7 linked regions of the Homo sapiens genome follow. The protein of the gene in region 4 purifies or fractionates together with the protein of the main gene of each other region. This does not show direct contact. Each region holds a gene or a part of one and is shown on either strand. Other genes may lie near its edges.

The links.
Region 1: the proteins of NES (region 4) and MICALL2 purify together in Homo sapiens (affinity purification with mass spectrometry; one large-scale study listed by BioGRID and IntAct). This does not show direct contact.
Region 2: the proteins of NES (region 4) and CMSS1 purify together in Homo sapiens (affinity purification with mass spectrometry; one large-scale study listed by BioGRID and IntAct). This does not show direct contact.
Region 3: the proteins of NES (region 4) and CEP152 purify together in Homo sapiens (co-immunoprecipitation; one large-scale study listed by IntAct). This does not show direct contact.
Region 5: the proteins of NES (region 4) and POC5 purify together in Homo sapiens (co-immunoprecipitation; one large-scale study listed by IntAct). This does not show direct contact.
Region 6: the proteins of NES (region 4) and ATP9A purify together in Homo sapiens (affinity purification with mass spectrometry; one large-scale study listed by BioGRID and IntAct). This does not show direct contact.
Region 7: the proteins of NES (region 4) and SCRT1 purify together in Homo sapiens (affinity purification with mass spectrometry; one large-scale study listed by BioGRID and IntAct). This does not show direct contact.

What each region holds. Positions count from the first base shown.
Region 1 is NC_000007.14:1,445,971-1,449,470, forward strand, and holds part of MICALL2 (MICAL-like protein 2), read right to left. Parts: intron 2,792-3,500; coding exon 2,650-2,791; intron 1,796-2,649; coding exon 1,605-1,795; intron 859-1,604; coding exon 743-858; intron 1-742. UniProt on the Homo sapiens protein: Effector of small Rab GTPases which is involved in junctional complexes assembly through the regulation of cell adhesion molecules transport to the plasma membrane and actin cytoskeleton reorganization.
Region 2 is NC_000003.12:99,824,362-99,827,861, reverse strand, and holds part of CMSS1 (protein CMSS1), read right to left. Parts: intron 1-3,500.
Region 3 is NC_000015.10:48,804,570-48,808,069, forward strand, and holds part of CEP152 (centrosomal protein of 152 kDa), read right to left. Parts: intron 1,088-3,500; 5' UTR 1,081-1,087; coding exon 994-1,080; intron 1-993. UniProt on the Homo sapiens protein: Necessary for centrosome duplication; the function also seems to involve CEP63, CDK5RAP2 and WDR62 through a stepwise assembled complex at the centrosome that recruits CDK2 required for centriole duplication.
Region 4 is NC_000001.11:156,671,336-156,674,407, forward strand, and holds part of NES (nestin), read right to left. Parts: intron 2,193-3,072; coding exon 2,119-2,192; intron 1,871-2,118; coding exon 1-1,870. UniProt on the Homo sapiens protein: Required for brain and eye development.
Region 5 is NC_000005.10:75,714,638-75,718,928, forward strand, and holds the start of POC5 (centrosomal protein POC5), read right to left. Parts: upstream 2,801-4,291; 5' UTR 2,669-2,800; intron 1-2,668. UniProt on the Homo sapiens protein: Essential for the assembly of the distal half of centrioles, required for centriole elongation. Acts as a negative regulator of centriole elongation.
Region 6 is NC_000020.11:51,600,891-51,604,390, forward strand, and holds part of ATP9A (probable phospholipid-transporting ATPase IIA), read right to left. Parts: intron 458-3,500; coding exon 321-457; 3' UTR 1-320. UniProt on the Homo sapiens protein: Plays a role in regulating membrane trafficking of cargo proteins, namely endosome to plasma membrane recycling, probably acting through RAB5 and RAB11 activation. Also involved in endosome to trans-Golgi network retrograde transport.
Region 7 is NC_000008.11:144,333,683-144,337,954, forward strand, and holds the start of SCRT1 (transcriptional repressor scratch 1), read right to left. Parts: upstream 2,801-4,272; 5' UTR 2,488-2,800; coding exon 2,373-2,487; intron 1,510-2,372; exon of another isoform or gene 1,305-1,509; intron 435-1,304; coding exon 1-434. UniProt on the Homo sapiens protein: Transcriptional repressor that binds E-box motif CAGGTG. Can modulate the action of basic helix-loop-helix (bHLH) transcription factors, critical for neuronal differentiation.

The sequences.
Region 1 (3,500 bases), on a different chromosome or scaffold from region 4:
GGGAGACTGAGGCAGTGTGTGTGGAAGGACAGTCGGGAGGGCATCTTGACGGGGGCACTGGAGGAGGCATCTGGACGGGGGCACTGGGGGACACTGGGGCTTAGTGAGGGGCATCAGGTCCTGGGTGTCTGGGAACAGTAGAACATCTTGGGCTATCAGCAACAGAGCGGGGGGTGGGGAAGAGGGTGAGGAGGCGGAGCAGTAGGGAGAGAAGAGTGAAGAGGGAGAGGAGGGGGGAGGAGGGAGAGGAGGGGGGAGGAGGGAGAGGAGGGGGGAGGAGGGAGAGGAGGGGGGAGGAGGGAGAGAAGGGGGGAGGAGGGGGAAAAAGGGGGAGGAGGCGGAGCAGTAGGGAGAGAAGAGTGAAGAGGGAGAGGAGGGGGGAGGAGGGAGAGGAGGGGGGAGGAGGAAGAGAAGGGGGGAGGAGGGGGAAAAAGGGGGAGGAGGCGGACCATTAGGGAGAGAAGAGTGAAGAGGGAGAGGAGGGGGGAGGAGGGGGAGGATAGAGAGGAGAAGGAAGGGAGGATGGGAAGGAAAGTGAAAGGGAGAAGAGGGAGAAGGGGAGGAGAGGGGAGGAGGCGGGAGGAGGGGAGACGGGGAGGGGGAGGGGGGAGGAGGGGAGAGGGGAGAGGGGAGAGGAACGAGGAGCGGGGAGGAGGAGGCCGGGTGGGAGGCGATGGGAGCTGTGGGAGGGTTCTGGGAGGGGAGGTGCACACTCAGGCGTGCGGGCAGAGGGCAGCCCCACCTGAAGCAGCTCCGGTGGTAAAGCCTCCCGTCGGCCAGGTGCCGCTGTACCAGGTGCACGTGCTTGCCGCAGACCCCGCAGGTGCTGCTGACCAAGCTGCCCGCCAATGCCTGGTCCTGGGGAAGATGCCAGCACCTCTCTGAGCAGCCGTCCACCCAGCCCTCCCTCCTGGTGGCAGCCCACAGGTGGCCGGAAGAGCCCATCTTACAGATGGAGAACTGGCCAGGAGAGGAGCCGCCAGCAGGGCTGCGGTCGGGGTCACACCCAGGTGGGTGGCAGCCCCAGTCCAGGGCCTCTAGCCCAGCCCTGGGGAGAGAGCTGAGGCCCGATGCTAGTGGTCCTTCGGTGGCTGGGGGCCAGGGGACAGATTCCAGGCCTCCTCCTGCCCCATTAGGGGCATGGATCCCATCCAATTCCCACCATCCCGGGAGCCTGGAGTGGCAGTCCAGGCATAGCAGGGGCTGCCAACCACCAGATATTTGCCCACCGCCTTCCACCCCAACTCCGCTTCTGAGAAGTGGGGGTGCCTGGGTTCACTCTGCAGAGCCGGCCTTGGGTACAGGGCATAGCCCAGCAACCCTTCTCTCCCCGGGAGAGAGGTATCCTGGGCCCATCTAGGTTCAAGCTCTGTCCCACCTTTGTGCTCTCCCATCTGTACAAAGTGGGATCACAACCCCTGGCTTGATGGAGCCCTGGAGAGCCCGGTCCTGGCGGCTCTTGCTAAGGCTGAGCCCTGGACTGGGGGAGCCGCACCCCACTCTGGGTCCCGTGGCTTAGGGGCCGCACGTAGTCCCACAAGCCCCTTCTGCACCCCCCGGTGGAAAACCCAGAGAACCAGGGGGAGGGTGGGGTGGGAGCTTACAGTCTTGGGGGGCGGGCCCCCTGCACCCTCATTCCTCCTCTGGACCACAGGGTTTGTCTGGGCTGGAGATAGTGGAGGCTTCCGGGCTGGGGCGGGCGAGGGCAGCTTGGCCGCCTGGACTGGAGCCTTCTTCCCTGACGGCTCCTCCTCAGAGTCCTCCGAGGCCCTCTTCACGCCTGCCATGCCCCCAACTGGAGGAATCAAGCAGGGATCGGGAGGGTCCCAGGCCTGGCTCTGAAAGGGTCTAGTCCCTCCAGAGGTCCCAGTGCCCAGCACAGGCCTTGGTGCCCGGGGGGGACCTGGGGGCCCAGGGCTGGGGAGAGGTAACCCTGAGGGCACTTTTTCTGGCACAGCCCCGGGTCGGTCCCCACTCCTTCCCTCCCCACTCAGAGCCCCAGCTGGAGTCAGGGAAAAGGGACTTTTCTGTTTCTCCAGCAGGCAGGGCAGGCCCTGTGCCCGGAATGGTTCTGGGGATTTCTAAACCCTAGAAGAGGAATGTGGGGGTGGGGGGGTGGGGAGCTGAGCTCTACACACACAAAGGCCGGGCCTGTCCCTCCCCTGCCCAGTTCTATCCGGGGGCCCCACCCTGCCAGGCCAGCCTGGCTTCCATAGGGTCCAAAATCAGGACAGATGAAGGTAGGCCCAGGAGCTGCCCCTGGTCAGCCAAGCCACCCCAGTGGGCACAGAAGCTCAGGGGTCCAGATGGGCAAACTGAGGCCCATGAGGGGCAGGGCGGCAGGAGCTGCTGGTGCACCTGGCACCTTGGGGAAGCAGCGGGGGCAGCTCTCCTGCAGCAGGATGAGGGCCCCGGTCCCTCTTGGTGAAGACACAGCCTGGGGCTTTGCATGGGGCCGGGGTTGGGGATGGGGCGCCCACCAAGGCCTCTTGCTGCTTCACAGCCAGTGCACAGCCCCGGTGCCCATGCCAGGGGCCATTCTTGGGGGGGGGGCTGGGCATGGACCCCAAAAAGTCCACAGGCCTGGGAGCCAGGCCAAGGATGGGGGGCCTGGTCCTGCCTGGCTCGGCGGGCGCGGCAGGGACTCACTGGGGGAGCGGCCGTGGAAGTAGTTGTAATACTGGGACACGTAGGTCAAGATGCTCAGCCGGTCAGGCACCTTCAAGGCCACCATGTCCTCGGCATCCAGCAAGGCTGGGATGCCCAAGTGCTCCTCGGCCACGCGGAAGGCCTGCGAAAGGTGGGAGGGGGTCAGCGGGGCAGCTGGGAGCCCCCTCCTTCTCCACCAGGCCGCAGCTCACCTCGACTCAAAGACACAGTCTTGGAGCCCAAAGAGGCGTGGGTTGGAGGCCGGAGCTGAGTTCTGCTCGCGTGGCCTCCCGGCCTCAGCTTACCCATCATTGCAGCGGGGATCACGGTCCCATCTGCACAGGACTGAGGTCACCAGGCCGGTGGGCGCTCAAGGCCCCGTCCAGGTGAAACCTCAGGGGATCCTACCCTTCACCGGGAGAATCCCAGGCCCCACCCAACCCAGACTTACGCAGTCTTGAAACAGCTCCCTCCAGAGGCAGGGCTGACATTGCTGAGCCCTCCCCGGGGGCCAGAAGGGACACACAGGTCGCCATGTCAGGGCTCCCAGGCAACAGGTGAGGGCCGCTAGAGGCTGAGACAGGGACTCGACAGCCCACGCCGTCCAGCCCAGCAGCCGCCGGCCAGGCATGGCTGTGAGCATGGGAAGTGTGGCCGGCACACTTGAGGAACTGGACTTGTTTATTTATTTATTTTTATTTATTATTATGTTTTTGGAGACAGAGTCTCACTCTGTTGTCCAGGCTGGAGCGCAGCGTCAGCTCACTGCAACCTCCACCTTCCGGATTCAAGCAATTCTCCTGCCTCAGCCTCCTGAATAGCTGGGATTACAGGTGCGCACCACCACGCCC
Region 2 (3,500 bases), on a different chromosome or scaffold from region 4:
GAGTCCGAGGCGGTGGATCACCTGAGGTTGGGAGTTCGAGACCAGCTTCACCAACGTGGAGAAACCTCGTCTCTACTAAAAATGCAAAATTAGCCGGGCATGGTGGCGCATGCCTGTAATCCCAGCTACTCCGGAGGCTGAGGCAGAAGAATCTGCTTGAACCTGGGAGGCGGAGGTTGCAGTGAGCCGAGATTGCGCCATTGCACTCCAGCCTGGGCAGTAAGAGCAAAACTCCGTCTCAAATTAAAAAAAGAAAAAATTTGCGTAGAAAAATGTTGACACTTCTATGGGAACCAGCAGAAACTCATCTTTAAATGGTAATGCAGTTCTAATCCCATTAAGACAAAAGTCTTCAAAGTAAAGTTACATTTGCCGGGTGCGGTGACTCACACCTGTAATCCCAGCACTTTGGGAGGCCAAGGCGGGCAGATCACATGAGGCCAGGAGTTTGAGGCCAGTCTGGTCAACATGGCGAAATTCCATCTCTATTAAAAACACAAAAATTAGCTGGGCTTGGTGGTGCATGGCTGTAATCCCAGCTACTCAGGAGGCTGAGGCACGAGAATCGCTTGAGTCTGGGAGGCAGAGGGTGCAGTAGGCCAAGATCATGCCACTGCACTATAGCCTTGGTGACAGAGTGAGACTCTGTCTCAAAATAATAACAATAAATAAAGTTATATTTTAACAAAAGGATTGACAACCAAAAACCATGCTTGTTTCAAGCAATATGTATTAATAATATAATAAAAATGCAAATACAACTATAAAGTGAGAATACTATTTGGAGTTCAAAACAGTAATGTCTGACCTATATGTAACACAACTGAAATATAAAGCATCTTTCCTCCTGGGCATGTTGTTTCCGCAGAAGTGTGGCCTCTGAAGAAAAATGAAAATAAAAGAAGCTGACCTAATAATTCTAGAGTGATTTCACCTGATGAACTGTTTCAAAGTAAGCAGATAAAAATCCAAGTGAGTGAAAACAAATCCAATTTGTAACAAAAATGTTAAAAACCTGATACTTTTAAGCTGAAGTCTTTTCCTGGTCCTTCATTTATTTACCTTCAAGGTTTCTGAACTAATCTTGAGATATTTTAGAATCAAATATCTGATTTTAACAGATATGTGACTGGTCTAATACATAGCTGATAACTACTAAGTAACGGAGTAACTAAGGTAAAACACAATTCTCTCTGGATTTGTTTCAAATTTCTTCTCCTGAAGACACGTGACATACAATTCACGATGTGACTTTGAGTTTGGGGCAGCGTTTGCAAACTGCGGTTCACAGGCCAAATTCAACCCACTGTGAAAGTTGAAAAACAATCAAAATAAGACTATTTTGTGACGTGAAAATTACATAAAATTCAAATATTGTTGTCCATAAATAAAATTTTATTGGAACACAGCCATACTCATTCGTTTACACATTTATTTTCTATGACTGCTTTTACACTGCAACAGCAGTTATGACGGTGATGACTGGACCCACACAACCTAAAATATTTATTATCTGGATTTATATGAAAAAAGTTTGCTGACCTCTGGTCTAGTGTGAACTAGAACAAGGAACTCAGAAATAGGAATTTAAGAGCTTGATCAACTACTTTTTATAAGCAATATTAGCCATTTAAAAATCAATTAAGAATTCTATGAAAGCTGATAAAAATGGGGAAACTATATTTCAAGCTGTGATATATTTAGTAAAATGTATAATTCTATGAATGCATCTGAAGTGTTCCACTAAATAACATCAGATTAACAACAGATAAAAGACTTGTGCTGGGCCGGGCTCCGTGGCTCACACCTGTAAATCCTAGCACTTTGGGAGGCGGAGGCAGGCGGATCATGAGGACAGGAGATCAAGACCATCCTGCCTAACGTGGTGAAACCCCCCTCTACTAAAAATACAAAAAATTAGCCAGGCATGGTGGCATGCACCTGTAGTCCCAGCTACTTAGGAGGCTGAGGCAGGAGAATCGCTTCAACTCAGGAGGCGGAGGTTGCAGTGTGCCAAGATTGCGCCACTGCACTCCAGCCTGGGGGACAAGAGCAAAACTCTGTCTCAAAAAAAAAAAAAAAAAAAGAAAAAGAAAAAAAGAAAAAAAGATTTGTGCCACAAAATGATATATTATTATTGAATCTGAGGGAGGAAATGGAAGTTATGTATAGGCCTTCCACATTTATGAGTTGTATTTTTCAAGAGATTCATGGACATTTAGCAAAATTATAGCAGGAACTACCTGACATGCAATTTAGGGAAATATGCATAAATTTCCACCTTTAAATGTTCGTAATTGTTGTCAAGAACCACTCATTTAATCATCTGAAAGAACTGTGGAAATTATATGCAGTAAATTAAACCAGACCATGAAGGTTATCTAAGTGTCCATCTGTTACAGCCTTCAAGTGTAGAGCAATGACTAATAACATAGTCATTTTTCTCCCTCCTCTTTCTTCTTTCCTTCCCCTTGCTTTTTAAATTCATCCTGCCCCTGTGTTTTGCCCCTGAATATCTGTCAATACTATTTGCATTTTGACTGAACCACATCAATGTGTAAATCCTGTAATGTAAGCTGATTATGTTTTTTCCCTCTAATTCTGGTACAGTGTCTAAAACAAGGCTAAGCATGAGAGCTTGACGAATGATTATGAAAACAACATGCCCAGAAGTCGATCCTCTGTTGTGTGTTATTAACATCTCCTACAAATATTCCAAGTCTGAATTTTATATGTAGAGACAATGCCTTACAACATCTACAATGCAAGACTGTCTATATGTAAAACTAATACTGTAAAGGTTTAACTTTGGTGTGAAAATAGAAAAAACACAGAACAAAAAAACCTGGGTACTTGGGTTTAAAGAAAAGATCCAAGGTGCTCCCCTACTCCATTTCCAGAAGGAATTCACCATGGATAAAGCAATATAATTTGAAGAATATACCATAAAATGATATTACAACAAAAATATTTACAAAGCTCATTTCAGCAATCTCAAAAAGAATAAGCACATTGATTCTAGGTGACAAAAGCTGTCACCAGTAAAAATTACAGGCTTATTTACAAAGAGTCTCTTGTCCTCTTTCCAAACGTAATTTATAAAATTAAATCCAAATATGGTTACAATAAAATGTTAGACACAGTTTTACAAGGACTACTAATGTAATTTTGAAAAGAGAAAAGCGGCATTTGCCAAATCTGTCAAAAGCCTGGACAGGAGTTTGACAAATCTGCCAGCAGATCAAGGTTCTTTTGATAAAGATCTCCTAGGTTGAGGTCTTCAAGGTGTGACTACGAAATATTAATAATTAATTGGTTAACTAACAAATACTTAATGAGTGCCTTCGCTGTATCCAGATACTACTCTAGGCCCTGAAACTAAAGCAAACAAGACAAACAAAATACCTGCTCACATGGAGCTCTTACAGTCTACTGCTGGGAAAAAGTAATTAATTTAACAAGGAAAAATAATAGTTGGTGCTAAGTGCTCTGCTGAGAAT
Region 3 (3,500 bases), on a different chromosome or scaffold from region 4:
TTCCACCAATAACACTATTACTGCTGCTATTACTATTGCCACCATTTACTGAACATTTGCTATGTGCCAAGAATTCTGCTAAACACTTTACATATAAATAATATGGTCTCTCCCTTTTATTCCTTTCCTTCTATAATCTATTCACCATGCAGCCTTCTGAAAGATCTTCAAAAATATGATATCAATTTTCCCTGCTTAAAATCCTCCACTGGCTTCCCATTGTTCTTAGAATAAAATACAAACACCTTATCATGGCTTTCCATGATCTGACACCCACATCCACCACCCAACACTGGCTCATATATACCCAATACCATGGCCTTCTGGCCGCTCCACATGATCTGTGGCATACACGGGGTCTCTTCCCAACTTCCCAGCTTACACTCATTGGTGTTTTGGCGTAGACTGCTCTTCCTCAGGCTTCTGCATGGCTGGTTCCTTCTCATGAGTCAAGTCTCAGCTCATATATTGCCTCCTCCCACAGACCCTCCCTCACCACCCCATCTACAGCAATCCCCTATCAATTGCTTTCATAGCACTCCAATTTGTTTCCCTGTCATTTATCAATGATAAATTATCACTCACTCAAATTACTTTACTCACTTGTTTACTTGTTTATTGTCTGCCTCCACTAGGATGTAAACTACCCAAAGCAAAGAGCCTTGTCAGACTTGTTCATGGCAATGTTTCAAGCACCTAGAAACTAACCTTCCACTTCCAAAGCCAACCATTACCTCCTAAATGAAAAGAAAAATTTAACCATTTATCTGATGGTATTATTCACAGTTGTGTTTTATTCCTGTCTCAAAAACAGAAGCATTCCACTTATTCACCTTTTCAGTCTAAATAGCAAGCAGATTTTAGGGTTGTTTTTTTTTTAAAAAATCCAAATCCCTTCAAAATGACACAAGATGATACAATTTTGATCAAGAAATAAAACTTGTTAAAGATTGGGTTTAGTGTCTCTTTTTTTTTTTTTTTTTAACAACTTACCTCTTTCTCTCTTTCATAGTCCTCTTCGTCATACTCTTCATCTTCATTTTGCACTGGTAGTGCCACACTGCCAAAGTCTAATGACATGGTCCTCCTGTGGGAAGGGAAAGATGTTTGGTTTCTGGACACCACATAAAATCTCCCCAGGACAAACTACATAAGAGATGCCATACATACACAAAGTGAAAAGACAGAAACAGACTGGGAGAAAATATGTATAACTCAGTTATGGCCAATAAAAATAATGGTGATTCACCGAAAATAGCTATATGACAGCAATTCATGGAAAAGAAAACATGCAAATAGGTAATAAAGCTATGAATAGACCTTTCTAGTGGTCTGAAGAGTATAAAACAGTAAGATTTTTGCCGACATGAAAAATAAGATGACAATAATAATAAACTAGAAATGTGCCAAATGTAAAAATCTTAAGCTCAAACAAAACTTCAAATGTGATATATTAAACATGGCACAGGCAGTACCCTATTGCTTCATTTTTTTTTAATATCAGAAATCCAAATATCATGCTTTACAAGAAGAAGGCCCCTAAATCATGAGTGAATGACTACTACCCAGAAACCATTTACAATTCAGTCAATGCCATAGAGTGCACAACAAAATATAAGTCTTAAATGTCCTCCTCTTAAGCTTGATAAAATCAGGTTCTGGCAATATACTCGGGAAAAACAGAAGTGAAGGCTGTGAAGCTCCACCACTGTGGACTTCCAATTCCAAAAGCAACAGCAAGAGTTCCCTGGGGAGCAGTGACTGCTGCGGCAGAAGCAGCAGCAGGAAATGGGTTTTCAACTACTTACATTCAAAAAAGCTGCTGCTGATTTAACTTGTACTTAGGGATCCTGACACTATACATAAACTCCTCAGAACTTCAAAGCTCTGAACAATCACAACAAAAAAGTAGGCAGGTGTCATCAATTACCTGGCCTAACACTGCCCTCCATTCAGTCCACTGTTGTTCATGCCAATGAAACGCACTTGGATGTGAGCCTGAGCCACAACTCATTCACTACACCTTTCAAGCTCTAAAATGTCATTAAATTGGAAGTAAAATCAGAAGCATGGAGACCCAGCAATCCAAATGCATTTTACCATAGAGAACTTAGCTCCCTCGTCTTAACAGATACGAACTATATCACAAACTTTTGTGGAAGCCAATAGCTCTAGAGCAGACAATATCCCATTTCATCAGATCTAAGATGTCTTTGATTCTATGATGCAGTTCCATTTGTAGCAGTAGGAACGAGATGTAGCCAATCAAATTATGACATAACATTAATTTTAGGACGCAGTCTATGTTGTAGATATTAAAGTGTGAAAAGAAAATATGCAAGCTAGAATAGATGAATATGGTATTAAAGATTAACATACATATGAACTTCAGTGGTAAAAATCCCCCTATGACAAGTTTTTGTTTTTCAAAGACTGAGTTATGTTTCTTGGCCAACCTCTAATTTGCAGTCTACCTTCTAATCCCTTCCTCTCTGGTCCCTACACCCAACCCGTCCCTTTAAACTCATATCAACTCAGACTATACCTCAACTTAAAACCCTCCAGCCTCTGCTTCTCAGACCACACCTATTCCTTTCTACCCTTGTGACAGGGCTAAACGGGGGAAGAGACATGCATATCGAGGAAAATAAATCTATCTATAAGAATCCTTTTGTATGTCAACATAAGATGAAGATATGAATATGATAAAAAGCCTGTAACATGAAATGGTGAGGGAAAAACACACAATCTCATGTCTCTAGATTTTTTTCCACTATGCAAATAGACTTAATATTCTACAGAACACTATATATATTGAAAATACTAGCCCAATTAAATCCTATGTCCTTAAAAGAGATGCCTGTAGTCCCAGCTACTCGGGAGGCTGAGGAAGGAGAAGGGCGTGAACCCGGGAAGCGGAGCTTGCAGTGAGCCGAGATTGCGCCACTGCAGTCCGCAGTCCGGCCTGGGCGACAGAGCGAGACTCCGTCTCAAAAAAAAAAAAAAAAAAGAGATGAAATTAAGCTGGACCTTAAAGAAATTCCTGAATCCTCCAGGCAGAAAAAATCCTTTCTGTTTCTGAATTCTGTGTCTTCTACCTTTCTTTCATTCAAATATAAATACAAGACGAAATATGGAATTTGGGTTACTTTCTCCTTCATTAAGTTAGAGAAGAGAGGTTTGTTCCCATCCTTTATTAACCTGCCATCAACTGATGTTGATTATTGAAAAAGAACATTAAGATTTATAAGAGCCTATTGCTAAAAATGTAGCTACTAATATTTTAAATAGACAGCTACTTTTTCTCAGATAGAGAATACTTAGGGTTTTGTTTTTAAAGAGAATGTAAAATATCAAAGTATATATCTTTAATGTTATTTTAAATTCAAAACATGTCATTAAAGAAGACATCTAAAAATACCTGAAAAGACCAAAATCTCCCCCACTGAAGAAGGTATAAGTTTTCCTTATCAGAACTATAAACTATAAAAGACTTTAAG
Region 4 (3,072 bases):
CACCTCTGCACATCTGCAGACTGCGGCAGCTCCTGTCCCTCCTCCTCCAGAGACCTCAGTGACTCTTGGTACTCTCCCTTTCCCAGGTTCTCTTCCTCTTCCAGATTCCTTTGACTTTCCTTGTCTACCTCCTCTGGAGATCTCAAATTCTCCAGGTTCCATGCTCCCAGAGATCTCAATGATTCCTGATTCTCCTCTTCCAGGAGTCTGAATGTCTCTTGGTTCACTTCCACAGACTCCAGTGGTTCTTGAATTTCCTTTTCTAGAGGATTCATTGCCCCCTGATTTATTTCTTCTGGAGTCCACAGTGGTGCTTGAGTTTCTGGAGATTTCAGTGTTTCCAGGTTCTCTTGTCCCGCAGACTTCAGTGATTCTAGGATCTCTGTTTCTAAAGATTTTACTGCCTCTACGCTCTCTTCTTTGAGTGACTTTAAGAACTCTTGATTCTCATTTTCAAGAGGTCTAGCTATCTCCTGGTCAAGAGACTTCAGTGGTTCTAGATCCACTTTTTCTGGGGGTCTTAATGTCATCTGATCCTGTTCCCCTAGAGACCTCCGTCGCTGTTGAGTCTCTTTTTCAAGAGTTCTCAATGTCTCTTGGTCCTGTTCTTCTAAAGACCTCAGTGATTTGTGATTCTCTGTTTCTAGAGGTCTCACAATACTCTGGTCCTCTTCTTCTAGAGTCTTCAGTGGCTCCTGGTTCTCTTTTTCTAGAGATCTAAAGGCCTCTTTGTTCTCATCTTCAAGAGACCTCAGGGGTTCCTGATTCTCCTTTGTCAGAGGTCTCAGTGCCTCCTCATCCCCTACTTCTGGAGATCTCAGTGGCTCTTGATTCTCCTTTTCCAGAGCTGTCAATGACTCTAAGTTCTCTTGCAGAGAACTTACTAATTCTTGATTTTCCGTTCCTGGAAATAAAAATGTCTCTAGATTACCTTCAAGAGATTTCATTAGTTCTTGATTCTCCTTTTGCAGGGATTGCAATGTCTGTGTGTCCTCTTTTCCTGTAGGCTTAAGTTGGCCTACAGCCTCTTTTTCTAGAGGTCTCACTACCTCCACATCCTTTAATAGCTCTTTATTTTCCTTTTCTAGACTTTTTAGTGTTTCTAAGTCTTCTTCTAAAGACCTCGGACATTCTTGATTCTCCCTTTCTAGTGTCTCATGGCTCTGGTTTTCCAGAGTCTTCAGTGACTCTTGAATCTCCTCTCCCAGAGACTTCAGGGTTTCTTTTTCCAAAGGAACCTGGGAGTCCTGGATTTCCTTCCTGTTTAGATCCTCTTCTTCCCATATTTCCTGCTGCAAGCTGCTTACCACTTTGCCCTCTATGGCTGTTTCTTTCTCTACCAACCCCCAGATTTGCCCTTCACCTTCCCCTCGGCATATGCTGAACACTCTAGACCCACCGGATTCTCCATCCTTAGCCTCTAAACTGGAGTGGTCAGGGCTGAGGGGTGGTGCCAAGGAGGCATGGTCCTCTGGGGACTGGCCTGTACTGGCCTCTTGCCGCTGGCCCCCAGGCTCCTCTGGTCCAGGCAGGACGCTGGCAGGAATGGCCACCCTGGCTTCAGCCCGCAGGGGCTCTGGAGCCTGTTTCCTCCCACCCTGTGTCTGGAGCAGAGAGAGAGGAGCATCCTGGGCTCTGATCTCTGCATCTACAGCAGGAGAGGGTGCCTGAGGTGTGGGGGGGATGGGGGTGCTGGCCAAGGTAGGGGTACGGGCCTGGAGGAATTCTTGGTTCTTAAGAAAGGCTGGCACAGGTGTCTCAAGGGTAGCAGGCAAGGGTGAGGGGAGGGAAGTTGGGCTCAGGACTGGGAGCAAAGATCCAAGACGCCGGCCCTCTGGGGTCCTAGGGAATTGCAGCTCCAGCTTGGGGTCTGGAAAGGCAGAGGGGGAAGAAACAGCATCAGTATATCACTGGCAATGAGGGGAGCCACAGAGCAGCCACCGCTGGCAAGAGTATCCATGCGCCTGCCCCTGGCGCCCATGGCTGGGCTGAGAGCATGCTCACTGACACTGGAGGCCACGGACTTGAAATTTAGATTGGTGCCTCTCGGGAAAGATAGGTCTGGGTATGAAGAGCAAAGCAGGGTAGTTTCTGGGGGAACTTGGCCCCTCCTCTTACCCTGAAAGCTGAGGGAAGTCTTGGAGCCACCGCCAGGTGTTTGCAGCCGGGAGTTCTCAGCCTCCAGGAGGGTCCTGGAGAGGACAGAGGGAAAGTGGGGTCAGCCCTCTGCCCCCAGGCCTGCAGGCAGCAAGCCAGCTGGGGACAACTCAGGCTGAGCTTGCACCATCCAGGCCCTGCAGGCTTCCTCTTCATTTGACACTGTCACACAAAAGCCACACTCAGGGTGAAATCACACAGTCACATACCCACAGACATCACACACTTGGTCACACAAAGTCACACTGTATTTGGGATACACAGCAGAGCTCAGACATAGAAGCAGATTCCCACACAGTCGGACATTGCCCTACACACACCCACACAAGGCTTAGGCTAGCCTCCTCCTCCCACCCCAGGCCAATGACCTCATCCTCTGTGTGGGGGACCGATTCTCATGCTAATTGCTGCCATTGTCCAAGCCACCATCTGGAGGGTCTGAGAAGGAGAGGATTCTGGGGAAGTGGGAATTCTCAGGCCGTTCCCATGGGATGGGCTCCCTCCTCCTTCCCCGGTGGCCCCCAGAGCTAGCGACAGACAAAAGCAAATGAATTCAGCTCCCCCTCTCCAAATCCTTTTCATGCCTCAAAAAATAGCAGTTAAATTCCTCGGGGCCCACCAGACCCTTCCCCTTGGTGGCTTCACTGGGGGTCAGGGCCCTCATCTCAGGATCTCTAAGCACTCTGGATCCCAAGCTCTTCGGGGCACAGAGGTCTTTGTGTCCAGGCCCCTTCCTCAGCGCCCCTTGAACCAAAGAGGGGAGCAGGGACCAATCAATTCAATAACTTAGGATGAGCAGCTGCTCCTCTCTGCTTTGCTCCATGATCTCTGAGTCTGGTTAGCACTCGCTGTAGCCTCACCTCTGTCCTTGCCAGTGCTGCGGCCTTCCTTCTGGGCTTCTCTTCCCTGGCGGTG
Region 5 (4,291 bases), on a different chromosome or scaffold from region 4:
TCACCAAGGCAAGGAAGGTAGGAAGATGAGCAGGTTGGGAGGAAGGACAATGAGTGCCATATCAGATGAGCTGGGTGTGAGGATGCCTCTGAGGCACTAGGGTAAAGCTGCAAGTATGCAGTCTGTGGTCACACTGGCTACGTAGTGCGCTACTCCAAGAACTGCCATTCACAATGGCTACACTGTGAATGGTGTTTCCTGGAGTTAAGCATTGTGGGAGCGCCGCACTGGAGGTATAAGTTGGAGATCCAGTTTGAGGAATCACTGGCATAATGGGAACTGCTGAAAAAAGGGAATGGATGAGACCACCTATAAAAAAGGAATGTGAGAAAAAGTTCTTATCCTGAGGTCCTGTATTAGTACGTTTTTCAAACTGCTATAAAGAACTGCCCAGGCCGGGCACGGTGGCTCATGCCTGCAATCCCAGCACTTTGGGAGGCTGAGGTGGGAGGATTACGAGGTCAGGAGATCAAGACCATACTAGCTAACACGGTGAAACCCCGTCTCCACTAAATACAAAAAATTAGCCTGGCGTGGTGGTGGGCGCCTGTAGTCCCAGCTACTTGGGAGGCTGAGGCAGGAGAATGGCGTGAACCCGGGAGGCGGAGCTCATAGTGAGCCAAGATCGCGCCGCTGCACTCCAGCCTGGGCGACAGAGTGAGACTCCGTCTCAAAAAAAAAAAAAAAAAAAAAGAACTGCCCAAAACTGGGTAATTTATAAATAAAAGAATTTTTATTGACTCACAGTTCCGCATGTCTGGGGAGGCCTCAGGAAACTTAAAATCATGGTAGAAGGGGAAGCAGGCACATCTTAGATGGCGGCAGGTGAGACAGTATGTGAGAGAGTGCAGGAAAAACTACCATTTATAAAACCATCAGATCTCGTGAGAATTCACTATCATGAGAACAGCACGGGGGAAATCGCCCTTATAATCCAATCACTTCCCTTCCCCTACATGTGGAGATTACAATTGAAGATGGGATTTGAGTGGGGACACAAGACCTAACCATATCAGGTCCCTATACCCGACTCGTATGCAATATTTTTATCATAAATGTGAATGTGTATTTTTCTAGAAAGAAGATCTTTCGCTTTAAATATGCGTTCAGAGGGGACCATAGCCCTAATAGAGTTAAGGACTACGACTGTGAATGAGAAGAGGGTTAAAGCCAGAACCACTAACATCTAAAGGGCAAGAGAAGAACAGTCAGCAAAGAAGAGGAGTCAGCAAAGGAAGTCAGAACATTAGAACTATGGAAGCAATATCACAACTTTGAGAAGAAAATAGAATTAGATGCCAAAGAACCATGAGGATTGGATAGAATTTGGAGATTAGGAGGTTGCTGAGACGTTTGCTTGAACAATTTCACTGGAAAGTAAAACAATTACAGGTCTTAGTCACAGTGGGCTGAAAAATAAATGAGAGATGAGGAAATTGAAATAGAAAAGGAAGATACAGGGAAAAGTGCAAAAATAGAATGGAAACACAGGCTGGAACTAAATTGTGGAAAGGAAAGTTCAACTTTTTCCAGTGAGTATCACTGTGCATACACATGTTAAGTAAACTAAATCTCAGCATGACTGTCTTTAGTTAAGCCAATTAGGGAGGATAAAATAAGTGCATGTATCTGCAGCAAGGAATGGCTGCTTCACTGACTTCAAATCTACCACTGTGATAACTTGGTCCATTTATATTTTTATTCACTTCTTCCTTCAGGATTTGAGACCAGGCAGGTAACAGGGGTGGGGGGGGGGGGGTGCTGATTATTTAAAAATGAGCTAGTAAGTATGGTCAGATCTCAAAAATTGTTTCTTAATATGGACACACTGCAGACACAAAAAAACCCACCGCACTCTTGGAAAATATGCTATCTTCCATCTGCCCTGCTTTATGTCAACAAGGTATGAGTTATTTGAAACTCTAGAACAGTAGCATTTTCCTTACTGTTTCTAGGTTCAGAAACAAAGGAGAAAAATGAAAACTGCTTTAATGGGTGGCGGACGCACATTAGTTCACTACATTTTCAGTAGTCTCTAATCCAAGGTATCAGAAAACAAGATCAAAACTTTTGTGTGCTTCTCTGTTGCCAGAAACATAAAATAACATCTTGGTAATTATCTGGCTGACAGCAAAACAGGGGTCTGGGAATTCAAATGGAACCCCCAAGAGGCAAAGGAAGAGCGAATTAACATGCAAACTAGCAGCAGGGTGATGTCGCCTGTGCCTTTCACCAGGCCTAGCTGCACTCAAGGAAAGGGGCGCGCCAGCCCCTCCCCAAAGCAGGGACTAGAAGCAGAGGAGAAAAGCCATTGCAGTAAGCAAAAGGCCATAAGTTTTCTTCCATCACCTTCCGACCCAGCCTGTTTTAAGAAAAATCTTACTTAAGCACAACAGAGCTTTATACATGGTTATTTTTTCTCAACGTTTTAAGTGACCGGAACCTCTGATGACAGTAATCGCTCAGCATCCCTCACTCCTGCTCACTTCCTCTTCCTGCACGCCTCGGAGGGGAAACTTTGGGACCTTCCGGCACAACAGCTGAATCACTCGCGGTCTGGGGAAGAGCCCAGGGGGAGGAAACACGCGCCAAGGAACTTTAAATCTCCCTCCACTACTTTCGCCAGGGATGCAGGGACGCAGGATCTGCCCGGAGCGCTGCTACCCACCGTCGCCGCTCGCGACCAAATCCCGACTCCTCGCTCTGCGCCTCTTAGCCGCGTCGCAGCTGCAGTGTCAGCAAGTGCAGCCTCAGCAAGCACAACCGCTACCTAGACGGCAACCTGACAGTTTCAAACTGCAGGGAGGAATTAAGGACCGCCCTGGGCATTGGTCCTTTGTTTCAGCAATCTGCCGTTTGATTGGTCCGAGAGCTGGGGGCGGGGATTTGGGCCGCTGCCGGGAGAAGCCGGAATTACTTTGGAGAGCCCCGCCCCCTGGCTCCGCAGGTTGGTAGGGGGCGGGGTCCTAGGGAGCCCCACCCAGCGCCCGTGGGGATTAAATATTGCGCGTGCTCAGTTCTGTTCAGCGGCTGCAGGCTGCTAAGCGGCTCCGGGAGCTGATTTGGATAGAGGCTGTTGAGCAGGGCTGAAGTTGGCTAATGCCGTGTGCTGTTGGCTTTCAACAATTCCGGTAACCTAGATATGAGTCCTAATGCTTTCGTCTGCATAAGAACAATCCGAAATTCTGGGCCAGGTGTGGTGGTTCATGCCAGTAATCCCGGCACTTTGGGAGGCCGAAGTGGGAGGATCGCTTGAGCCCGGGAGTTCGAGACTAGTCTGGGGAACATAGGGAGACCCTTTCTCTATAAAAAATTAAAAACAAAAAAAAAATCTGCATCATCCACAGATCCCCTGCAACAGAATCACTTGGAGGTGCTTTTTTTTTTTTTGAGATGGAGTCTTGCTCTGCCGTCCAGGCTGGTGTGCAGTGGCACTATCTCGGCTCACTGCAACCTCCGCCTCCCAGGTTCAAGGGATTCTCCTGCCTCAGCCTCCCGAGTAGCTGGGATTACAGACGACCGCCACCACGCCTGGCTAATTTTTGTATTTTTAGTAGAGATGGAGTTTCACCATGTTGGCCAGGCTGGTCTCGAACTCCTGACCTCAGGTGTTCCGCCCACCTCGGCCTCCCAAAGTGCTGGGATTACAGGCGTGAGCCACCACGCCCGGCCGAAGGTGTTGATTCCTTCGGTCATGGACACCGTCAGGAAATCTGAATTTTTAACACACACTGCCAGTGATTCTGATGCAGGAGTCTGCAGACCACCCTTTGAGAAATTGCTAGTCTAGGCTGGGCGCGTTGGCTCACGCCTGTAATCCCAACACTTTGGGAGGACGAGGCAGGCGGATCACCTGCGGTCAGGAGTTCGAGACCAGGCTGGCCAACATGGTGAAACCCCATCTCTACTAAAAATACAAAAATTAGCCGGGTGTGGTGGCTTACGCCTGTAGTCCCAGCTACTCCGAAGGCTGAGGCAGGAGAATCCCTTAAACCCAGGAGGCAGAGGTTGCAGTGAGCCAAGATATCGCCACTGCACTCCTGCCTGGGTGATAGTGAGACTCTGTCTCAAAAAACAAAGAAAAAACCAAAATTGGTAGTCTAGTTTTAACTAATCTCAAACGTGTCAGACTTCAAGATAGAGCCTTCTGGTGAAGTATTGGCCTTAGAATCAGATCATAATTATAATCTAGCTTTACCATCTACTCGCTGTCACCTTGGATAATACTACTCACATACTAAGGTGGTAGGAGATTAAAGGAATTAATATATCTAAAACACCGAACACACAA
Region 6 (3,500 bases), on a different chromosome or scaffold from region 4:
CAACAAAATTCAAGTCATAAGGAAGCTCGCACAGTGACCCATATAAATCTCCCAGCTGAGCCACCAGCTTTAACATATTCATATTCACCTAAACATGAAGAACGAGGGGTTCAGACAGGCCCAGATGGGTCTCTTTCAGGACCCTCCCTCCCGTTGATGCAGCGTTAGGACTCCGTTTAGGCGCAGAGCCACTTCCCATTAAAACTGCATGTGTTAGCAATTACTGCAAAATCCACAGGTGGCGGTTAATATAAATGGAACTTGAGCTCTGTCCATCAGGGAAGCGCCAAGACCAGGGCCCCCTCCAGCGAACGCACGGCCTATGATGTGAGCTTTGAGTAGCTGGGGGGAGAGAACCGTCTTCGCAGGTACTTGAGGACATAGAGGGGGAGGCAGCTGACCAGAGTGATGACGGAGACTTTCCACAAGAATGACAAGGTGGCGATGAAGTACACATCTGCAAGGAAAGGGGAAGACGGCAGTGAGCAGGCAGGAATATTCCGGAAGGTGCATGGGGTCCAGAAACAGGCGTCACAACTATCAAAGGGAAAGTCATCTCCCGTCACAAACCCACAGCCTCCTGGCATTGGCCCTCTTTCTCCATGGACTGTAAGGGAAGGTACCATGGCTAAGAGCACACAGCGCCGCAGCTTGATTTTCCTCGCTCTCTCTTCTGTAGCTTCCTGACAGTGAAATGCTACTTTTAACACCCAGGAGAAGAAAACTATGGGGGCCACCAGATGCAGTGGCTCATGCCTTAATCCCAGCACTCTGGGAGGCCAAGGCGGGCAGAAGAATTGAACCCAGGAGTTTGAGACCAGCTTGGGCAACACAGCAAAACCCTGTCTCTACAAAAAATACAAAAACTAGCCAGGCATGGTGGTACATGCCTATAGTCCCAGCTGTTCAGGAGGCTGAGGTGGGAGGATCATCTGAGCCCGGGGAGCTTGAGACTGCAGTGAGCCAACATTGCACCACCGCACTCCACCCTGGGCAACAGAATAAGACACTGTCTCAAAAAAAAGAGAAAAAAAGAAGGAAAGAAAATTACAGGGGAAGAAAACTCAGAGATGCTTTTGATTTGGTGTTGTCTAACAGTTGGAGAGTCTTTCTAAGTCCCGGCCACTGGCGAGCAGAAAATGACATTCAAATGCACCCTCTGCTTCCAGTGATGGTCGCAGAAAGCCACAGGATGAGTCTGGGTCATGGTGCAAAGTGTTCAGACCCCCTTGTCAGAGAAAGGCTTAAGCTGACCCTCAGGGACTCTGATGGAAGGTGGGGGGGGCGGGCGTACTGCCTTTCCTGCTGCAGGATTATAAACCCGGTTATGAGGTTTTCTTAAGAGAGGAGTGACAGTTTGTGGCTTTCAATATAGCAGAAGCCAGAATAAGCCCCTTCTCCACTTTCTGAGCACAGGATGCTGAAATGCAGCTGCCACTGAGGCAGCACCTACTAAGTGCCAGGCCCAAGGCTCAACTCACCCTGTGGTTTTCCTACACCTCTGACCCGGTCCTGTGGTGTGTCCCTATCACAAACAAGCTGAGCTTCCTGAGCAGGGGCCACATCTCTGTGACCACCTCAGGCCCAAGCCTTTGAGCACATACTAGGTCTCACAAAACGCTTTCTAGAGACTAGTGACAAGGGTGAAACTGCTTTAAAACTCCACTGTTCACAGGGATGCTCCTTTAGTTCCTGGAGCGCACAGTAAATGCTCACAAATCCTTTCTAGAAACTGGGGCTGCAACTGTGAAACCTTTACTTTTCAGGGGATGTTTCTTTTACCTTTACTAAAACCTTCCTAAGGAGCTTTGGAAGCTGGCAAAAGAGCCGCGATCAAAGATGCTTCCAGGGTAAGGTCGAGTTTCTCTGCCTTTTTGTTGTTATTGCCCCTTAAGGAACATTTTTAGACTTTTCTTCTTCTCCTAATTGACCACCTCCATGACATGTTAATGTCACAGGTATACTGTGTATCTGTTTATAATATTATATATACATCTCCTTTATACGTAAAAGGTTAGGGTTTGTTCACACCCCACCAAAGACCACTGTTTGTTCCCCAGGCGGTGGGGTCCACACCACCCCCACTGAGAAGGCCTGAGGTAAAGGAGCAAGGGATGGGCCATTGCTAGAGAGCCTGGGCCCTGCAGGTTTCCCACGGAGGATGGGGCGTGAGGGGGTTGTCATTAACTGAAAGTTTCCCCCAGAGAGAGTCTATCCTGCAATCCTGAACACACATGAGCTTCTTAGCAGAGAAGCAGCCTCCGGGCCCTGCTCCCCCAGCTGATAAAGGAGAAACAGTATCACTCTTGAGGGTTTTTTGTTTGAATAACACAGACAGAAAATTAAATGCTCCTACTGAGGAGGAAAGAGGTGTAAAGAGGACTGTCTGCTAAACCAGCTAGACTTTCAGGATGACCCCTGGCCCTGAGGTTCCAAAGCCATAGCGGCTTGAGTTTGCCCCGTGCGGGGGAAACCAAGATTAGAGTTCAGAATCTATCCACAGCACAACACAGAAAATGCTGGATCATCTGAACCGTGCCCGTGTTGCAAGTTCTAGTTGAACTAGAAACAGGTTTCTAGACAGGAATTAAAGCCCGTGTCAGCACCCGATGGGGTCCGTAGCATAGCATGGGGTCATCTTGGTGGCCCTGCAGGGACTTGTGGCTCAATCAATTGGGAAGAAATTAACTGATATGGCAAAGCAAGTGAGGTCAGCATGGAAGAGTGATGAAACCAGGCTTGTCCATCTAGAGACAGTGGCTGACGCTGGACAAGCCCAAGAGTACCTGGAATCACTACTGAGGTCAGAGAAATCTGCCACCACCCCACATTAGGATGGTGCTGACACTCCCCCATCTCTACATTCCCATAACATTTTTTATTATTTATTTATTTATTTATTTATTTAGAAATGGAGTCTTACTCTGTCGCCCAGGCTAGAGTGCAGTGGCGTGATCTCAGCTCACTGCAACCTTCGCCTCCCGGGTTCAGGCGATTCTTCTGCCTCAGCCACCCAAGTAGCTGGGACTACAGGTGTGTGCCACCACGCCCTGCTGATTTTTGTATTTTTAGTAGAGATGGGGTTTCACCATGTTGACCAGACCGGTCTCAAACTCCTGACCTCGTGATCCACCCGCCTCTGCCTCCCAAAATGCTGGGATTACAGGTGTGAGCCATTGTGCCCGGCCTCCATAACATTTTTTATTTGGGGTGTGCCTGGGCGTCTAGCACCTCACCCCATTTTTCTTTCTTGGTAACTTTGATCACATCTGATATTCCTGTGCTCACACTCACTTAATGTGTGTTTATCGTGTGTTCCCAACGAGAAGGGCAGCTCCCTGGCGAGCCCGTCCACCTCATCTGCCACCATAATCCTGGCACACGGCAGGTGCTCCCACGTCTACGGAACTGGCGAGTACCTTCAGCACTTGGTTTGCTGTGAGGAGCAGCAGATTGTATTCTGAGATCCCTGGAGTCCCTCAGGAGCTCTATCAGGACAC
Region 7 (4,272 bases), on a different chromosome or scaffold from region 4:
CCCTGGCCCCGCGCGCGCCTCGGTGCCTGCCCCCGCGCGCGTGCCGCCCCGGCCCCCCGGCCCGGATCCCAAGCTGCGCCCGCCCGCCCCGCCCCCGCCTCCGGCGTCGCCGTCGGGGGCCGCCGCCGAGGCTGTGGAGGGAGCGGCGGCAGCGCCGGCATTGGAAGCCTTACGCCGCGAGCGCCCGTCGGTGATGAAGAAGGCGTCCGCCGCGTAGCCCTCGCTGACGGCCGCGTCGCCGTTGATGTAGCCGCCCGCAGCGGTGGCCAGCTCCGGGCGCGGGGTGGGCGGCGGCGCAGACCCTGCAGCCGCCGGACCCAGCTCTCCACGCACAGCTGCTGCGTACATGGGCTCCGGCGACGGCCCTTTGAGCAGCGCAGCCTCGGCGTCGCCATCGTAGACGGACGAGGGCCCCACGTAGTCGCTGAGGTACCCTGCGGGCGGAGGCGGACGGACAGCGGGAAGGGAATGGGGCGGCGGCAGGACACACACGGGGGATGGGGGGGCGGGAGACAGCAGACGCGGACCGGGAGACCCGGGTCCGGGAGAGAGGCGAACAGGGAGGAGGACAAAGGAGAGGAGGCCGAGGGACCGCCGGGCAGGGAGGATGGAGACAGCAGGGAGGGGAAGAGAGGGGAGGAGAGGATGAGACAGGGCCGGGCCACGCTCCGCCCCCGCCGCCCCACCCTCGCAGAGAGGAGGAGAGAGGCGCGTCTTCGGGCGCGGCTGCCCCCCTTCCGCGGAGCCTCAAGGTCAGGGGGGAGGGGCGGCGCTTCCCTCTCCCTCCTCCCCCACCCACCCTCCCCTCCCCCTCGGGTTCTCCCCACTTCAGCAGTTTTCCCTGATTATGCAACACACTGCAGACCCGCGGCGCACAAAGCCAGGACTGCCGGCCCAGGGACCCCGTCTGTCCCACCTCTCCGGGGTCCTGGCCGGCTCTCCCTCTGGCCTGCAGAACGTGCGCTCCATTTTGATGTTGACCCCCTCTGGCCTTCTGGTTCCTCCAACAAGCCCTGAAGACGTCTCCCTCCCCCAGTTCCCTCCGGCCTCACCAGCACCTCCCTCAGCTCTCCGGCCACCCACTGGACTTGACCCTGCCCTCCCTGCTCCTCCATGCACTCTGCTTCTCCTCCGAACTCCCTCTCACCATCCTGCACCCTTGGGTCCTACCCTGTTCAACATTGCCCTCTCCTGCTCACACCCTAACCCCTTTCAGGGCCTTCCCAAGCCCCTGAACTGTGCAGAGAGGGCCAGGGCGTCCACTTTCACAGGGACGAGCTGCAGGAGGGCAGCATCACTTATACCGGTAGCTGCAGTTGCTCCCCAGGCACAAGATGGATCTCATAACCTCAAAGTCACAAATGCACGCCCCTCGCGACGCTCTGCCTCCTTCAGGGCTACACCCAGTCTCCCAGCATGATCAGCCCTTGTGTGCCCTCACAGGGTGGGCTGCACACTGATGTGCCGAACTCACCACCTCCTCACTCACGCAGGGTCACACATGCAGTCACCCCGGACACACTCTCAAGTCACATGGTGCACAGCGGCCTCAGAGTCACATGGTCCCATGTAGTGGCACACAGGCAAGCACACACACACACAGGGTCACACACAAGCGCACACGGTCACATGGCCACACACAGTCACATGGACCCACACAGGCTCACACTCCTGCAGGTCACACTTGCTCTGCCACCCCATGCTGCTGGCACTCCTGTCCCCCTCTCCTGCATGCTGACAGTTGTCCTTGAACTTGGGCACCCTTACACAAAGAGCCTCCCCCTGCCTCCCACACCTTGGGCGTCCCTTGCTCACAGCCTCCTCCCTGCTTCCTCTCCCTGACCCAGGCTTCAGGGAAGAGACTGCTGCTGCCTCTGCTGGCCCTCTGCTCTGACAGGTGGGCGGCCCTGTTGGACCCCCTGCCTACTCCCTGGAGCTCCCTGCATTCCCCAGCTAACCCTAGCAGGTGTCCTGGTGCAGTCAAGGAAGAGGAGAGGGTGGCGAGGCGGCCCTGGTCTCTTGAGTGTAGGTCTGTGTGTGCCGGCATGGCTGGGTCCCGTCATGGCAGCGCCCATGCGGCTGTGTCTGTCCCAGCATGGGTCAGGATGTGGGTCCATGTGTGCGTTTGGGTACCTCAGTTCCTGATCCTCTTCCCCACCCTCTGTCCAACGTCGACACTCTCCCTGCCCAGCCTTGGCCTCTGTGTTCCCCTTCCTCCCCTCTACCGTCCAGGCTCCAGCCACAGACTCTTGCCGTTTCTGGTTCCCTTCAGTCTGTTTCCCCGGGCCCTGCCCTCCGCCCCCACACTCTGGCCCTCCACCGCTTCCAGCAAAGCCCCAGGCCCCGCGCCCTGGTCTCAGACCAGCGCTCACCTTTATCGTGCAGTGGCGCGCCGAGGTCGCTGCGGGCGCGTCCGTAGGCGCTCTCCAGGTCGGCCGAAGAGAACGCGTCAAGTTTGACCTTCTTGACCAGGAAGGACCTGGGCATGATTCCTGCGGGGCTCCGGCGCTGTGGGCCTGCGGAGCCGGGGCTTGGGGGGGCTGCGGCGGCAGGGCCCCGTCACCATCCGAGGAGCGGCGGAGGCAGCGCGGGTCCCCACTCTGGCCTTTGGATGCTGCCGCGCGAGTGGTGTCCTCTCTCCTTGCTGCCCTGCGTCTCCTCCGTTGCCCCTCCGGATCCCTCTTCTTCCTCCTTCCTTCAATCCTTCCTTCCTTCCTTCAATCCTTCCTTCCTTCTCTCCTCTTCTCTCCTCTCCTCTTCCTTCCTTCCCTCCTCTGGTCCCGGCTTCCCAGCCCGCAGTGCCGCCCCTGGACAGGCGGGGGAGGAGGCTGGGGGGGCGGAGAGGGGGGGAGCGGCTCCGTCCCGGGCCTGGAGGCTGCGAGTGGGTGCAGGGCTGGCCCGGCTCGGTGGCCCCCTTCCCCTCCCCCCCCCCGCCGCCGCGGCGGAGCCTCAGTCAGCGGCCCCCCATGCCCCCGGGGGCGGCGGCGCCGGGCCCGGAGAACGCGGTGGCAGCGGCAGCGCCGGCAGCTTCAGCACCGCGGCCAGCGCCGGCCTGGGCAGCACCGCGGCCAGCGCCCGGGCGCGCTCAACCGGCGCGGGCGGAGAGGGGCGGTCCGCGGGGGTTTGGCCGCCGGGCAGGGGTCCTCGGCGGGGGTCTCTGGGAGGCTTGCTTTATTGTTCTGCAGCCGGAGCGAGCGGCAGTGGCGACGGCGGCGGCGGCGGCGGCGGCGGCGGCGGGCGGGGGGCGGGGGTCCTGGGGGGAGGGGTGCGCAGGGAGGGCGGGCCGAGGGAGGGAGGGAGGGAGGGACAGGGGCTCCGGGGGCGGGGCTCGGCGCTCGGACTGCTCCTGGGCCCGGCCTCCAGAGCCCGCAGCCGCCTCTGCCTGCGGCCCGGCCCAGCCTCTGGCTTTTAAAGCCCAGGAGCTGGGGGAGGGGGAGGGAGGTGGGGGAGAGGCCGGCGGAAATGGCTGCGCTGGGCCGAGCCCCGGCCTGGGTCTCCTGGGAGGGGTCCCGGGGATGCCTCAGCCTGCGCGAGTGGGGAATTCCCCCGCGCGGCTCGGGGAACCGCGGCCCGGCAGCCAGCAGCATTGTCGGGCGTGTGGGGAGAAATGGAGCCAGGCCTGGGACCCAAGCGCCCCGGACTCGGGGTCTTGTGGGGAGGAACGTAGGGAGGACCCCAGTCCCGCCTGCCTCGCTCGGGGCCTGGGGCGCGGGATCTGCGGGGGCGGGCGGGGGAGGCGGGAGCCGAAGGAGCAAGTGCTGAGGCAGCGAAAGCGCAGCGCGCGCCCTGTGCCGCAGTGGCTCCCGCCGCTCGGTCACCCCGGCTGACCCCGTGCACGCTGGAGGGGCCTACCCGCCCCCGCCTCTCTCCCCCCGGGCGGGTGTGCGGCGCAGCGGCGTCGCTGCGAGCCGGGTGTGGAGCTGGAGAGGGGCTGCCACGACCCTGCTCCAGAAATTCTGCTGCTTTGGGGGTTTTCCGCCCTTCCGCGCGGCTGCAGCTCCCCACGGCAGCCCCGCAACCAGGCGGATAACCCTTTCCTCGGCCGCCCGCCCAGCGTTTGCAGCCCCCATGACGTCAGGCTCAGCGGCCAATGGCGGGGCGCCGGGCGCGGGGGCTCCGGGGCTCCGGGCCGCACAATGGCCGCGCGCGGGTGCCTCTGTCCCCAATTAGGGCCTGGCGCCGCCATTGTCCCCTCACCCGCCCCGCCCGGTGGTCCGGGTCTACGGGCTCCGAGCGCGCTCCCACGCGCCCCGCTGCCGCTGGGGACCAAGG